2 separate regions of the Homo sapiens genome follow, and region 2 is linked to region 1. Evidence: fine-mapped expression QTL. Tissue or cell type: whole blood. Region 1 holds a variant in brackets; the other region holds the start of a gene. All regions are shown on one strand. Distances are between the middles of the regions.

The links. PIP is the estimated chance that this variant, and not a neighbour inherited with it, causes the effect.
Region 2: it holds the start of FRMD4B, and the variant in region 1 is fine-mapped to the expression of FRMD4B in whole blood (TOPMed, PIP above 0.99).

What each region holds. Positions count from the first base shown.
Region 1 is chr3:69,233,226-69,241,333 of GRCh38, reverse strand. All of the region lies in intron 7 of FRMD4B (FERM domain containing 4B), which reads left to right. Among named protein-coding and RNA genes, the nearest start is that of LMOD3, 110 kb to the right of the region's middle. RefSeq lists enhancers at 5,307-5,806, 5,807-6,308. The variant C/T (reference allele first, on the strand shown) is at 4,437.
Region 2 is chr3:69,381,154-69,389,261 of GRCh38, reverse strand. FRMD4B (FERM domain containing 4B) reads left to right here and starts at 3,174. Exons shown (of 23, transcript NM_015123.3): 1 at 3,174-3,434. The coding sequence starts at 3,273. RefSeq lists an enhancer at 3,097-3,707.

The DNA of each region.
Region 1 (8,108 bases):
CATTTTCCACTCTTATTTCAGCCTCTTGCTGGACCACACACTCTACTCTATGAACCATAGAATCAGAGTAGGAGTCAGGCTTCTGCATTTCACAGCTTAAGTATTTTGCATTTCAAAACCCCTTGCATTTCACAGCTTAAAAAAACCTGATGCAACTAAATGAACACAAAAACCCTAAGTCCCACCTTAATACATCTTTAGACAGTTACTAACACCACATAGGATCAGTCCTATACAGGAAGTAACTCTCTTGACCCATTTGAGTTCTCAGTTTCTTTCTCCACTGGAGTGGACCAGGCCGTTACACCCATCATAGCTACTTGGTCCTGAAATGAAACTCAGCATACTTGGCCTCTTCAGGTAGCGGCTGGCTGAGACACAGGCATGCGTGGCATTCGGTAGGAATAGAAAGTAGCATGACATGAACTACTTCCACTTCTCAAAGTGCAAACCATCCAGAGTCTACAGGAGCTGTGAGACGACATTGTTGAGGGAGAATTCTACATTCCCCCGCTGATAAGCATTTCCAGGCCTTTTGGTTTGTTTCTGGAAACACACTAAGTGATAACATAACACATAACAATACAGTCTTCTTATCTGTGTTCAGATGGCTAATGCGGTTAATCCATTTTTTTGTGTGATCAGGAAAGACACATTGAATCACACATACAGGAAGAAGGATTAAAGAGTTGGGGCTTCAAGTTGACCATAAATAATTTTTCACTTGTCTAGTAGGAAGTTTCCCAGAAGAGAAACACATTTCTTTGACTTTCCATTCTTTTGTAGGAAAACATTATCTGCATTGATTGTTTTTCTTTTACGTGTTCTTTTTTTTTTTTTTTTTTTTTTTTGAGACAGAGTCTTGCTCTGTCGTCCAGGCTGGAGTGTGCAGTGGCGCTATCTTGGCTCACTGCAACCTCCGCCTCCCGGGTTCAAGCAATTCTCCTGCCTCAGCCTCCCAAGTAGCTGGGACTACAGGCACATGCCACCACGCCCGACTAATTTTTTGTATTTTTAGTAGAGATGGGTTTTCACCATGTTAGCCAGAATGGTCTCGATCTTCTGACCTTGGGTTCCACCCTCCTCGGCCTCCCAAAATTACAGGCATGAGCCATCATGCCTGGCCTATGTATCCTTTTTCTAACTCTAGATTTAAGAATAAATTTTTTTAAATTGTAGTAAAATATACATAAAATTTATCATCTCAACCATTTTTAAGAATAGAGTTTGGTAGTGTTAAGTAATGTTTATGTTGGGTGTGTGTGTGTGTGTGTGTGTTTGAGACAGAGTCTTGCTCTGTCGCCCAGGCTGGAGTGCAAGTGGCATGATTTCGGCTCACTGCAACCTCCGCCTCTTGGGTTCAAGCGATTCTCCTGCCTCAGCCTCCTGAATAGCTGGGATTACAGGCACGCACCACCACACCTGGCTAATTTTTTGTATTTTTAGTAGAGACAAGGTTTCACCATGTTGGCCAGGCTGGTCTCGAACTCTTGAGGCAATCCACCCGCCTCAGCTTCCCAAAGTACTGGGATTACAGGCGTGAGCCACCACGCCTGGACGTGTTTATGTTGTACGGCCAATCTCCAGAACTTTTTCATCTTGGAAAAACAGAAACTCTGCACCCATTAAACAGCTCCCTATTCACTCCTCCCGCAGTCCATGGCCACCACCATTCTACTTTCTGTCTCTATGAATTTAACAGGAGAGAAATAAAATATTTTTATTTTAAATATTTGTAGATTTTCATGTTAACCTGCTTCCCAACCTAAGTCATTCTTATGGATGATATTTCTTCTACCCATTATTAAGAGAGTTAAAGGTTCAAAGTAGACATGATCGGAGTCCTCAGGGAGCTGGCTGACGTTTAGAAAAATCTTTCATCACATTTTCATTCTCATTAGAAATTCCTTAGACCTAAAAACAAATAGCTTGACAGTTGATCCCCATCAAGCATGCAGATGGGCAGAGTAATTGTCCCCTGTTACAAGTTAGGCCACAGACAAAAATGTAATGACAAAGGAATTCTAGCTGAGAGGACACTGCACTTCCCAGAACACAAGCAGGTTTCCTGCTACAGGATGCATCTTTGGTAGAATGCTGAGAAAATAAAAGGCTGACACCAATCCTGTGGATCAGTCATGATGTTGGAAAAGTGAGTTTCTAGGCTGAGCTTCCACTGGTTGCCAATAGACTCTGTCAAACCAAGCCCCAAACTGCTCACAACTCGGAACTTGGCAAGTTACTTTCAAAGTTCTTTTCCCAGGCAGTTTATTATAAGCCCTTAGAGTTGCCAGATTTAGCAAATAAAAATATAGGACGCCCAGTTAAATTGGAATTTCAGATGAACAACGAGCAATTTTTTAGTATAAGTATGTCCAATATATTAAATCTGCCAACTCTAACCCAGATCACCCCTTTAGGATTCTTCTCAATAGTAATAATCGACCACCAGCCTGGGCAGAGAGTGGTAGGAATAAAGTGTTTGGTAAAATCTTTGGTTTATTATGCTACCTTCAGAAAGGAAGGAACATTTTTGTTGTTGTTGTTTTGAGGCAGGATTTTTCTCTGTTATCCTGGCTGGAGTGCAGTGGCATGATCATGGATCACTGCAGATCACGTGCCCCCTGGGCATAAGTGACCTTCCCATCTCAGCCTCCCGAGTAGCTGGGACTACAGGTGTGTACCCCACGTCTGATTAATTTTTGTATTTTCCATAGAGATGAGATTTCACTGTGTTGCCTAGGCTGATCTCAAACTCCTGGGCTCAAGCAGTTTGCCCACCTCAGTCTCCCAAAGTGCCTGGATTACAGGCGTGAGCTACCACACCTGGCCAGGAAGGAACACATTTATTGAACATAGGCAAGTGCCTTCATTGCATTCTATTGTAATATACCCAAGAATCCTATGCAACAGGTCACTATTTGTATTTTTATAATATGGAAATGCAGGCTCACAAAGGTTAGTTTATCTAAGACCACAAAACTCCTAGGAACAGAGAGACCTGGGACTGAATGCAGTTCTAAAGGCCAAACCGTATTACTGCAAATCATAGGCCTAGAGCTGATTGGTTGGTTGGTATTTTTGATTTTTTCCTAGGTATGTACTGGCTGCCTGTGTACTAGCTCTAGTAAAATGATGGGCAGCTAGGTGATCTTTCTAAATCTCAGTTTCCTTATCTGTAAATTAGAGCACCAACATCTTGGGTGCCATGAAGACTAAATGAGTTTGTGTAAGTAAAATGCATCCTAGGCACTTGTCACACATAGCAAGTGCCTAGGATGGCCACCTTAAGAGCCCAAAGTGGATGGGCGCTGTGGCTCACGCCTGTAATCCTGGCACTTTAGGAGGCCAACGCCGGCCGATTGCCTGAGCTCAGGAGTTTGAGGCCAACCTGGGCAACATGGTGAAACCCTGTCTCTAGTAAAAATACAAAAAATGAGCCGAGCATGGTGGTGCGTGCCTGTAATCCCAGCTACTTAGGAGGCTGAGGCAGGAGAATCACTTGAACCCAGGAGGCAGAGGTTGCAGTCAGCCGAGATCGCGCCACTGCACTCTAGCCTGGATGACAGAGCGAGACTCTGTCTCAGTAAATGAGTACATAAATAAAAGCCCAAAGAATATCTTTTATCATCCTATGAAAGAGAAGCTGAGAGGTCTGAGGAAGCTGGGGACCAGAGATGGTGTAGAAATGCATGCTCGCACCTGAACCCCCATGAAGGCGCTAGAAATGCATGAAGCCTAGAAATGCATGCTCACACCTAAACCCCCATGAAGGCCTTCTTTGCATGCTCACACCTGTAGCCCTGTGAAGGAGCTTCTTAGGATGAAGGATGGGCCAACAACTTCCCACCTCTCACAGAAACAGTGGGAGGCATCCCTAGATTTGGCCAGAGGCCAGGAGAAAGGCTTATATAATTCTTTCAGTTCTCACTTTTCACTCTGTAAATAGCTGCAACCTGACTTGGTTTAAGGTCTGATCAAGAAAGGTTTAAATCAAGAAAGGTTTAAAGGTAGGGAGGAAATTCCAAAAATGAAAGACCCTGTGGCTTAGGAGGGGAGGAGAGCAAGGGCTGGCACAGCCAGCTGGGTGTTTCCTTTCCCGGCCCCTCCCTCCTCTTCCGTTCCTCCCTAGCTTTCCAATTCTCTCCTCTTCCTCCTCTTGTGCTCCGGCCTGCAGTTGTCCAGAGAACAAACCTCTGGTCCTTTAGATCTGTTGCCACCTACTGTGGGAACTTTGGTAAGTTTTCAAACTTCAGTGGGTCTTGTTTCTCTCATCTGTGCATTTAGGGGTTGGACCAAATGAATTCACCTCGCTTACCCGGCTAGGTGGAGCTGCTCTCTTTTAAGTTTAGTCTGGGTGGGTAGAAAGTGAAGAGGGCTCTTTCTTTTAGCTGTTATGCAGTTAGCTCAGTCTGTAATCAGTTTTTCGGAACTAA[C/T]TTGCAATAATCAGGAGTGGCATTAGGCATTGAGTGAACTTGAGCTCTAGCTTTCTGCTTTTGCATATGATTGACTGTGAATGAAAGTGTCAGCTTGTTTCTTCTTTTCTTCATCCCATCCCAGGCCTTAGTATACCCTAACAGTAACAGAGATAACTCATCCAGGGTAGAGATCTTACTCTGAGCTTTTTGAATCAGTATAAAAAGTGGGGCTTCAGGAATACCTTGTGTGGTTTAAGGAGCTTTAATTGATATATTGGACTTCTCACCTGTAGCAGTTTGCAACTCCCTGTTTTAAGGTTCTGCCGAAAATGACTGGAGTCTGGTTTTGCAGCTCATGTAAAAGTGTTTTTCAAAAACCAAATTTGGGGCCGGGCACGGTGGCTCATGCATGTAATCCCAGCACTTTGGGAGGCCAAGGCGGGCGGATCATTTGAGGTCAGGAGTTCCAGACCAGCCTGGCCAACATGGTGAAACTCCATCTCTACTAAACATATAAAAATTACCCGGGCATCGTGGCAGGTGCCTATAGTCCCAGCTACTCAGGAGGCTGAGGCAGGAGGATCTGTTGAACCCAGGAGGCGGAGCTTGCAGTGAGCTGAGATTGTGCCACTGCACTCCAGCCTGGGCAACAGAGCGAGACTCCATCTCGGAAAAAAAAAAAAAAAACCAAAACAATAACAACAACAATAAAACCCTAAATTTGGTGTCCTCACTACTAAGGGACAACTAGGCTATGGTTTTTGTTTGGTTTGTTCTGGTTTGGTGTGGTTCAAGAAACACTGCTAACACATTAAGTCTTGTTATCTATGTTCAGATCCTTGATGTGGTTAATCCAGTTTGATCTAGTTTAAAAACGCAGACTGTCATCACCTAAGCAATACATATTTTGGTGGAATTAATCAGTGGCTACCATAATGATAAATGCTGAAGCCTCAAAGTTAAAATCTTTCCTCTGCTCCTTCCCTATTTCCTGTCCCCTCTTCCTAGAATCCTGGAGGAGTAAGGCAAAGTTGTTAAAGCACAGGTTTGGAGTCGTATTTGCTTTGTGAGTTTAAATTGCTTAATCTCCCTTAACTCTGTTTTCATATCCATGAAATAGGGACACTGATGTTAATAGCATAATATGCCTGTAGAGAAAGGGGTTAGCCCACTCTCTGCCACCTGGTAATACCCAGTGAAAGAGCTGTTGTCCCTTAGAAGTATTTCTTTTTTTTTTTCCTTTCTTTTTTTTAATTTGATATGGAGTCTCACTCTGTTGTCCAGGCTGGAGTACAGTGGCATGGTCTGGGCTCACTGCAACCTCCGCCTCCCAGGCTCAAGCGATTCTTCTGCGTCAGCCTCCTGAGTAGCTAGGATTACAGGCACCCACCACCACACCCAGCTGATTTTTGTATTTTTAGTAGAGACAGGGTTTCACCTCAAAGCCAGGCTGGTCTTGAACTCTTGACCTCAGGTGATCCACCCACCTCTGCCTCCCAAAGTGCTGGGATTACAGGCATGAGTCACTGCGCCTGGCCCTTTAGAAGTATTTCTTTTGGGGGATTAGATGACAGCACTCATGTTTTGTCACTGCTAGGTCAGGTCACTTGCTAGAGTCTCCTAAAACAAACCTGAGCTGTCCACCCAAAAGCTTTGCTCAGGCTCCCTGACCATCTCTACAATTTAAGGAGTTGATTACAGTTTCTTTCTTGAAAATATTATTATTATTATTATTATTATTATTATTATTATTATTATTATTATTTGAGACAGGGTCTCGCTCTGTCACCCAGGCTGGAGTGCAGTGGCATGAGATTGGCTCACTGTAAACTCCGCCTCCTGGGTTCAAGCAATTCTCCTGCCTCAGCCTCCTGAGTAGCTGGGACTACAGGCACACACCACCACACCCGGCTAATTTTTTGTATTTTTAGTAGAGGTGGGGTTCCACCATGTTGGCCAGGCTGGTCTGGAACTCTTGATCTCAAGTGATCCGCCCGCCTCAGCCTCCCAAAGTGCTGGGATTACAGGCATGAGCCACCACACCTAGCCAAAATCTCTGTTTTATGTTGTGTTTATCCTATTGCAGTGGTTCTTAAGCCCTTAGTTAAAAGCAGATTGCTGAGCCCCACCCTCAGCCTTTCTGATCCAGTAGGTCTGGGGTGGAGCCTGAGATTTGCCTTTCCAGAAAGTCATCCGATAATGTTGATGCTGCTGGCCAGGGTACGAGGGTACAATGATAATCACTGTTTTCTTTTGTTTGTCACCTTTAATATTGCTTTACCTAGGAATCAGTAGAGAGAAACTTACTATTAGAAATTTCTAGTTGTTAAGTCCAGCAGATAATACACTGAATTCATCATTGAAGGCCAGGTTCTACAAATAACTGAAAGAAACATGATATTCTTTTTCAATAAAGGGCAATTTGAAGGCAAGCTAGCCAGTGAAAAGCTCTTAAACTGCTAATCACCCAGGTCTTGGTCAGTGCCAGTAGATTAGTTGAGGAAATTGGTGTTTGTTAATAGTAACCAAGATCCTTTTTAATAATTACTTGTTTATGCAATCTGTCATCCTTCAATAGAAGATCCAGCTCAAATGGTTTGATTGATAGTTAAGTTGGCACCTGTTACACCTATGTAACAGACATTTAATACACTTTTTTTTTTTTTTTTTTGAGACAGGGTCTCACTCTGTCACCCAGGCTGGAGGGCAGTGGCATGATCTCAGCTCACTGCAGCCTCCACCTCCCAGTGCAAGCAATTCTCCTGCCTCAGCCTCCTGAGTAACTGGGACTACACGCACGCGCCACCAGGCCCAGCTAATTTTTGTATTTTAAGTAGAGACGGAGTTTCACCATTTGGCCAGGCTGGTCTGGAACTCCTGACCTCAAGTGATCTGCTAGCCCCAGCCTCCCTAAATGTTGGGATTACAGACATGAGCTACTACGCCTGGCCTAAATAAACTTTTGTAGCTGCTATGATCACTAATCCTGTCCCATTTCTTCAGTGTAGTTCAGAACCTTGATGGGTCATCACAGGTTTCTAGTAAGCACAGACAAAGAAATGACTTCTCATCAAGGCCTATACAAGGCAACACTAGAAGACTGGCAAATGTTTCCAATTAGCTCCATTCCTAATAACAGTAAATCTTTGGTTTGCCTGGGACACAGTACTAAATAGAGTTCTTGGCTGTGATGACTTGCCCAAATCCTGGGAGGCCCCTGTCATGATCTTTTAATTTCTCATGTTATGTAAGCTGTATGGTACATATACACTTAATAACAGGCTTTAGACTTTACTGAGTGTTCAAATAGGCACTTAACTATGGCATTTTTACATCCACATACACATTTTCTGAAATAAGGATTTTGAGTTACAATTATGTGTAGGTGAAAAAAGAACTCCAGACCCAAGTTAATCTTTTTTTTTTTTTTTTTGAGACAGGGTCTCACTCTGTCACCCAGGCTGGAGTGCAGTAGGCGATCGTGGCTCATTGCAGCCTCGAACTCCCGGCCTCAGGTGATTCTCCCAACTCATCCTTCCAAGTACCTGGGACTACAGGCGTGTGCCACCCCACCCAACTAATTTTTCTGTATTGTTCATAGAGACAAGGTTTCACCATGTTGGCCAGGCTGGTCTCGAACTCCTGGGCTCAAGTGATCCATCTCGCCTCCCAAAGTGCTGGGATTACAGG
Region 2 (8,108 bases), 150 kb before region 1:
CAGGAGTTCGAGACCAGCTGGCCAACATGCTGAAACCCCATCTCTAGTAAAAATACAAAAATTAGCCTGGCGTGGTGTTGTGCACTTGTAATTCCAGCTACTCGGGAGGCTGAAGCAGGAGAATCACTTGAACCCGGGAGGCGGAGGTTGCAGTGAACTGAGATGGTGCCACTGCACTCCAGCCTGGGCGACAGAGGGAGACTACGTTTCAAAAAAAAAAAAAAAAAAAGTAGACTAAGAGACAATGGAGACTGGGGAGGGTCAGAGGGTGGGAGGGGATGAAGGATGAGAAATAACTTAATAGGTACAATGTACACTATTCTTGTGATGGCTACACTCAAAGCCCAGACTTCGCCACAATGCAATATATCCATATAACAACACTGCACTTATACTCACTAAATCTATCATTTTAAAAACCCACATTTTACTTATACTGTTTTATCTGACTACAAAAAACTGAAGCAATTCTTGATTCGGGGGGTTATGGTGATTAGTTTTCTTTGGATGCTTACCCTTCACCAGACACCGTGCTAAAGACCTTATACAGAATATTTTACTTAATTTTCCCCAAACTTTTTGTAGTGAATACTGATAATACATTGTACACATGAGGACATTGAGACTTTGTTGACTTAAGGAGCTTATATGGGGTCTCACGGGTCCTGAGGAGAGGAGATCTGAAGTTGGGTGGGTCTCTTTTAGAAGATTTAGCTCCTAATCACCATACTATCACTATTGTAGTTCTCTAATTTTAGCATGAGTCGGAATCCTCCAGAGGCCAACTGAAAGCTCTGATCGCTGATCTCACCCCCCAACAATTTCTGATTCCAGGGCTGCCTGAGAGCTTGCATCTCTAGCAAATTCCCAGGTGATGCTAAAGCTGCTGGCCCAGTGACCACACTTTGAGAGCCCCTATTATACTACATCCTATCTTCTAAAAAATTGCCCTGACTTTGGAAACCTTGAATGAAAATGATGGAATTTGAAAGTGACTGCTGACATTAGACCTACGCACAGATAGCTAACAGCCAGAGTGTTTCTAGAGCCTCTCTTCTGAGAGGATGGTGTCATGAGACAGAGGTAATTGACCTGTTGTAGGTTTTATTCTGGTATTCCCTTGGCTGCCTGACATTTCCGAGAACACAGTCGAACTGCATCGTTTAAAAAAAAAAAGTACCACCACCATTTGCTCGTACTAATAGGGCATTTTTGAAGTTCAGTAGTTTTCCATTCAGCATGATGACAGTTCTTTTTCAAGCTAAGTTCATTTTCTTTTGATTCAGTAAAATCTATTATATTCAGATTCATCGTTACCATCATCTTGAAAAAAAAACCATCAATACTAATACTGATGGCACATAGAGAAGACTTATTGTGAAGAAAGGTTTGCAAATCTTGGACCAAGTCTTGTGTCCTATTAACTAATTCAACAAAAACTCTTGGGCAATTTTATTAACGAAAGAAATCTCATTTAAAAGTTTTCTGATTACAGTCACTGAAAACAACAGGCACTTTGAGGACAGATTTTGTGTTCTTCGTCTTTTGACTGATTGAGTTTCACCTGAATTAAGATTATAAAAGCACATTTGATACCTGAAATCAAGCTGATTTACTTGTCGATAATCTGTTCTGGAGTCTTCTGGGCTAGTTCAGGAGAAAAGCTTTGGTGCCTTACCTTTCCTTTTGGTGCCACTTAATAGCATAGATAACAACCCAGATGTGAAACAGCCAAGAAAATACAGACAATTGACTTACAGATGGATTCAGGAAAAAACTCCATCCTGAAATTTGCTACAGCACTTTTGCTATGAGAAATCTTCATACATTCTAAGGGAAAATGGAGGCTGGGCACAATGGGTCATGTCTGTAACGCTAGCACTTTGGGAGGCTGAGGCTGGAAGATTGCTTGAGCCCAGGCATTTGAAACCAGCCTGGGCGACATAGTGAGACCCCATCTCTACAAAAAAAATAATGATAATAAACTTAGCACCTGTAGTCCCCGTGGCTGAGGTGGGAAGATGGATCACTTCATCCCAGGAGTTCAAGGCAGCTGTGAGCTATGATTGAGTCACTGCTCTCCAGCCTGGGCAACAGACCTTGTCTCAAAAATAAATAAAGGAAGACAGAGACTGGTGGTAGGCGAGACTCCTTGAGCTCCCTTTTCCAAATGTTTCCAACAATCAGCATCAATTCCCGAGGGAAAACTTTAATAAATAAATAAATAAGATTAATTATCTAGTGACTTCATGAGTGGTGGAACAGTTTCCTTTGGTTTTGAGGGGAGAATAAACTACCCATGCAGGTTGGTGCTTGCAGGTGAGGTTAGACATGTCCAGAGGCTGAATTTTCCAGAACTAAACCACCGATTCTCTTATGGGCTTCTGTTTCCCAGCACTAGTAACGGCAAGCTATTTACAAGGGACCAAGAACTCTGTTTTTCTCCCTGACTGCTGCATTGGTATTAGCAGCATCTTGGTGTGAGGAAACCTGCCTTCCTGCTGGCAACCACAGGAGGCTGTCATTTTCTCTGAGACCCTCAAGTTAGGAGCAAAGGCAGGTTCTAGGGCCGCCTGTTGCTTTGAGACTGTTGCCTTCATCTCCTGCTTCCAGCAGAACCAAGGAAACATTCGTGGCTATTCCCCCAGGAGTAGGGTCCAAAGGGATGCCTTGGAGATTTTTTTTTTTCTCTCTCTCTCTTCTGCATCTGTGGCTGCCCAGAGGTGTTTTATCAGTGTGAACAGAGCAAGATGAGTAAGGTGTTCCCCGAGGCAGATTAGGAGACCACTCGTCCGGTGTGGGGGGTGTGTGTCTGTGTGTGTGTGTGTTCGCGCGCGCGCAAGACGTGGAAGCCAAGTGTGCTGAAATGCAGCTCCCCTCTCTGCCTGCAAAGAGTTGCTCCGCTTCCGTCCCTGCCCCGCGCCCTGGGGAAGCGCCAGGGGGAGTCCTCGCCGGCCAGGGCTTCCCGTGCCCCGGGAGCATCGAGGGCCAGCTTGGTGGAGCTTAGCACAGCTTGCTCGGCGCTGCGAGCGGGCGGGGGTGGACACTGGGCTTCTGTGTGCCAGTCGCAGCCGTTGGCTGGCGGGCACCCAATCCCAGGGCATGCCGCCGGAGCCTGGCCAGGACGCACGGTGAAAGACGAGTTTGGTGGCAGGCTTGACCCCCCGGCTGCCAGCAGAAGCCGGCGTCGGGAGCCCAGGCGGGCAGGCCGCTGGGGTCGGGGCTGCACGTACGAGAGCCGGGACGCCCGGGTTCAGAGCGAAGGAGGAGGCATGGCTTCGGTGTTCATGTGTGGCGTGGAGGACCTGCTGTTCAGCGGCAGCCGCTTCGTATGGAACTTGACCGTGTCCACGCTGCGGAGATGGTACACGGAGAGGCTGCGGGCTTGCCACCAGGTGCTGCGGACGTGGTGCGGGCTGCAGGACGTGTACCAGGTGAGCTGGAGCGCGCGGCACCCGAGGGCCCCAGCAGGATGCCGGGCACTCGTGGGAAGCAGGCTCCACCTGTATGATTTTATTCCCCCCAGCTCTTCTTAAACTCCTAGCAGACTGCTTGGCCCTTGGGTCAAACGCTCAGCAGCTCTAGGTAATTATTGCTTGACAGAGCTTGTGAATTTTTCAAATCGGGCATGGGGGGCACTTGCGAGATAGTCCCAGCGTTTGCAGACATCTGTTACAGAGCAATGGTGTACTGGCGGGCGCTTGACTAGGGAGGCTGTTGCTTTGCAACAGAGGGTCTTCAGAAAGCCACTTAGACATTCAAATGAGTCCTTCTTTTTAATTTCATTGGGGGTGGGAGTGGCTGCTTCTGAAGCAACGGTTTCACACCAATTTGCTGGCAGAGGGGGCCTTGGTGGATTTTTATCCTTCCGTTGGATTTTCAGTTTTCCATCAGGCAGCCCCAACTTGTAAGGCAGAGCCAGGAAAAGCTGATTCTGTGTCTACTGGCTTTTGGAAGGAAGGACAGCAAATTGTGAACACTTTGCAGGAGGATGACAGGCTGGGGAAGGGAGGGGTGGCCCGGCTACACGTTGGAATGCTCATGTTAGGATTTACTCCCTGTCACACAACACAGCCCCTTTATTTCTCTGCTCGGTCCCATCCTGCAGGCAAAAAATGCAGCAACTTTGCTCAACTAGGAGACCATTCATCCTCTCTGGTACTGCAGTTTGCCTGGATTTCTTTTTTTTTTTTTAGACAGTAATTTATGAATTTAAAAGTTCTGTGCTTTGGTTGTTAATATATTTGAGATTTTTAAAAATCTGCATTGTTTAGAAATATACTTGGTGTCTACTGTGGAAAGATAATATCATATTTTCTTTCCTGTGATGTGGAATAGCTTTGTTGCAGTTCCTGGATTTCCCCCCATTTGACCCTGTTCCTAATATGTCTAGAATTTATGTCTTATTATATTGTGTCTCATACATGATCAAGCACTTGATTTTGACAAACCATAATCTTCCATCAATCAGGCAAAATGAAAAGGCCAGCACCTAAGGTTAGCCTGTGGAAGTCTAAAGAGTCAGCGTCCCCTTGTCACCCTTGTTAAAATATGAGGAACATTTGAACTTGTGCTTTCACTGCTTCTGCTTTGTATAACATATCTGTGATATCTTGCATTTTGAAATGGAATCTGAAAGGCAGGTTGGGAACCAGGGCAGCATGTGGGAGTTTGAGAGTATTAGGGAATTGTGGATATATCCCATCTGGCCACATTACATAGCTCTCTGGCTTTTTGGAGCCAGAAGTGTGTCTGTCTTTCAAGCCTTTTTTTTCCTCTCTTGGGAAATCCCTGTTCAGTTTGGTCTGTAGAATAAGTGCCCCTTATGTAATTTTGTTTTTCCTTTTTAGTGTTTGAGAAACTTTCAAAAAGGGAACGCAAATATTGTAGCCAACCAGAGTGACTCTGTGCCTCACTCCCCAAGGATTCAGAGGATTTATGGCTTATCTGTAATACTGTTACTGACCAATTCAAAAATAAAGATTCCAGAAACCTGAGACCTTATGGATTCTTTATAAGGTTGACTGATAATTTTTATGCAGAATAGCAATTTGAGACACTGAGCTACTAAAATATATGTATTTTTTTCTTTTCTCTAAAATGGATGGTGACTGAGCCAATACCATATCATAATTGATAAGAACATCTAAAATAATGGTGGTAGTCAGGCAGTGTGCTGTGTGTCTATAATCCCAGCTACTCAGAAGGCTGAGGCAGGAAGATCCCTTGAGCCCAGGAGTTTGAGGCCAGCCCGGGCAACATAGTGAGACCCATCTCTTAAAAAAATAAAAAATAAAAAAAAAATAAGTCCCCACTCCTTATTTTTAACTTTAATCAATTGTACATTTCAAAATAACTAGAAGAGAATAATTTGAATGTTTCTAGCACGAAGAAAAGATAACGGTTGGGCACCATGGCTCATGCCTGTAATCCCAACATTTTGGGAGGCTGAAGTGAGAGGATCACTTGAGCCCAGGAGTTCAAGACCAGTCTGAGCAACATAGTGAGACCCCATCTCTACAAAAAATTTAAAAATCAGCCAGGTATAGCGTCATGAACCTGTGGTTCTCTCTGCTCAAGACGTTGAGGCAGGAGGATCACTTGAGCCCAGGAGTTCAATGCTGCAGTGAGCCATAATTGTCCCACTGCACTTCAGCCTAAGTGACAGAGGGAGACCTCCTCTAAAAAATTAATTAATTAAAATATTTAAAGCATTGGCTATCCCAATAACCCTGCTTTGATTATATGAATGTGTCACATTATCACATGTACCCCCGAACTATGTACATCTAATATGTATCAATGAAAATAAATAACAAAGGCTTTTATGAATACAGAATCAGAAGAAAATGATCTCTAAGTTTAATATTTCCTGTGCTTTTGCAAAAATAAGATTTTCAAAAATATTTTCAGCCTTTGAATATTCTTAATTGTGCAACATAATCCTTTGCAAAGGAAGATCATTTTTTAATGCTTTTCAAATATTAAGTGAAAAAGTAGTGACTTAATTGTGTAGAACTAAAAGACAGTAACTGCAAGTTAAATAGACAAGGGAGTTAATCCAGTCTTTGCCTATGTATGACCGTGGGTAAGTTAATCTTACTATACTTCAGCTTCATCATTTATAAAATGAGAAATTAATAGTACTAATCACAGAGATTGATAAAAGAATTAATTGACGTGAGATATTTAGCACGCTGCCTGGAGTTTAGAAAGCATCCAATAAATGTTATCTTTTCCATGAGTTAGGATTTTTTTTATTATAATAGAAAACCCAATTCAAACTTGCCTACAGAGTAAAAAGAAATGACTTTTGTCACAGCTGAAAAGTCTAGCAGTAGAATGAACTTTAGGTATTGTTTGATCAGGGTACCATGCTTTCAGACCTGGTCTTGCTGATGTGTTGGCTTTATCTTCAGCTGGTTTCTTCCCTCACAATAGCAGATAATCACAGCAGTTTCAGGCCTTATATCCACACATCCAGAAAGAAAGAATTTCTCATATCCTCCAACTATCAAAAAAAAAAAAAAAAAAGTCCCAGTTTACATGCTGGAACTCCAATTTAGGGTCTGTACCCACTCCTGATGCCATGCACTGATTGGCACAGAGTATGGGATGACAATTTATGCATTCTCAATGAGAGTGAAATGGCCCAAAGGAGGCAAAAATTGTTTTGGAGGAGGGGGGTGGGAAAAAAATTCACTACTTTTATTTATAAAGCACGAATATACATGCAATATATAAACAGAAATACAGCATATCTGTGACATTAAAATGGGAGGGATTGGGCTGGGTGCAGTGGCTCACACCTCTAATCCCAGCACTTTGGGAGGCCAAGGTGAGCAGATCACTTGAGGTCAGGAGTTCAAGACCAGCGTGGCCAACATGGCAAGACCCCGTCTCTACTAAAAATACAAAAAGTAGCTGAGTGTGGTGATTCATGCCTGTAATCCCAGCACTTTGGGAGGCTGAGGCGAGTGGATCACTTGAGCTTACGAGTTCGAGACCAGCCTGGCCAACATGGCAAAACGCCATCTCTACTAAAAATACAAAAATTAGCCAGGCATGGTGGCACATGCCTGTAATCCTAGCTACTCGGGAGGCTGAGGCATGAGAATCACTTAAACCTGGGAGATGGAGTTTGCAGTAAGCCATGATCACACCACTGCACTCCAACCTGGGCAACAGAGTGAGACTCTGTCTCAAAATAAATAAATAAAATGAAATAAAATAGGAGGGGTGACAAACAAACAAAAATCTAAAAAGGCTCCTTAAGCAGATAACAATGAATTAAAAGGTTAAGAAACACTGGATTGCATTGATTTGCTGAGGCTAGAGGGGAAGGGACCCATTTCTGAACCTAGGATTGAGGTTGGCCCTACTCAGACCACAGAGCTGCCAGGGAGGAAAGGCAAAATGTTTGGCTGAAATGCAACCAACAATGTTCACTGCATCATTAGAATATCAAATCTAGTGCTCTTTACATAAAAATATTAGCTATTTTTCAAGATAAGTACAAAGATTAATGCTCAAATACCTTTGTATGTATTTTGCCACAGGAATTTGAGTTAAGGGGCTTATCATAAGATTACCCCTTTGCTATCCCATAATTGTGAATTCTAAATCAGAGAGGGGATTGTTCCACTGCACTGCTCAGCTTTCAGGCATATGGACTAGAAACACACACACCAGGGAGTTACATATTTTACTGAACCAAATTTTAGATGATCTTGTTGATAAAAAGGTGTCATTTTTCTTGCTTCTAGTCTGAATAGTCTTGTTTGTAAGGAAAGCCAAAGCTTCATCACTCTAGAGAGAAATAGGGTGGGAAGGGAGGTATCCATTACATGAAATACCTGTCAGTCTCCTGGGGGTGTTCTTTTTATTCATATACTATAAGTGAAACAAGATCTCCCACCTATTCATAAGGTATTTGCCAACAACATTATTGTCAGGCTAGCAAAGCTAGGAAGGCATAATTTCTTTGGAATTGAACACTTCTTCCATTTCTAGATATTGGAGAAGCAAGTGACTTAATTTGCCAACAAACCATGAATAATTAAGATACTAGCTATAAGGTATTTCTGTAGTAATGAGACTAAATAAAA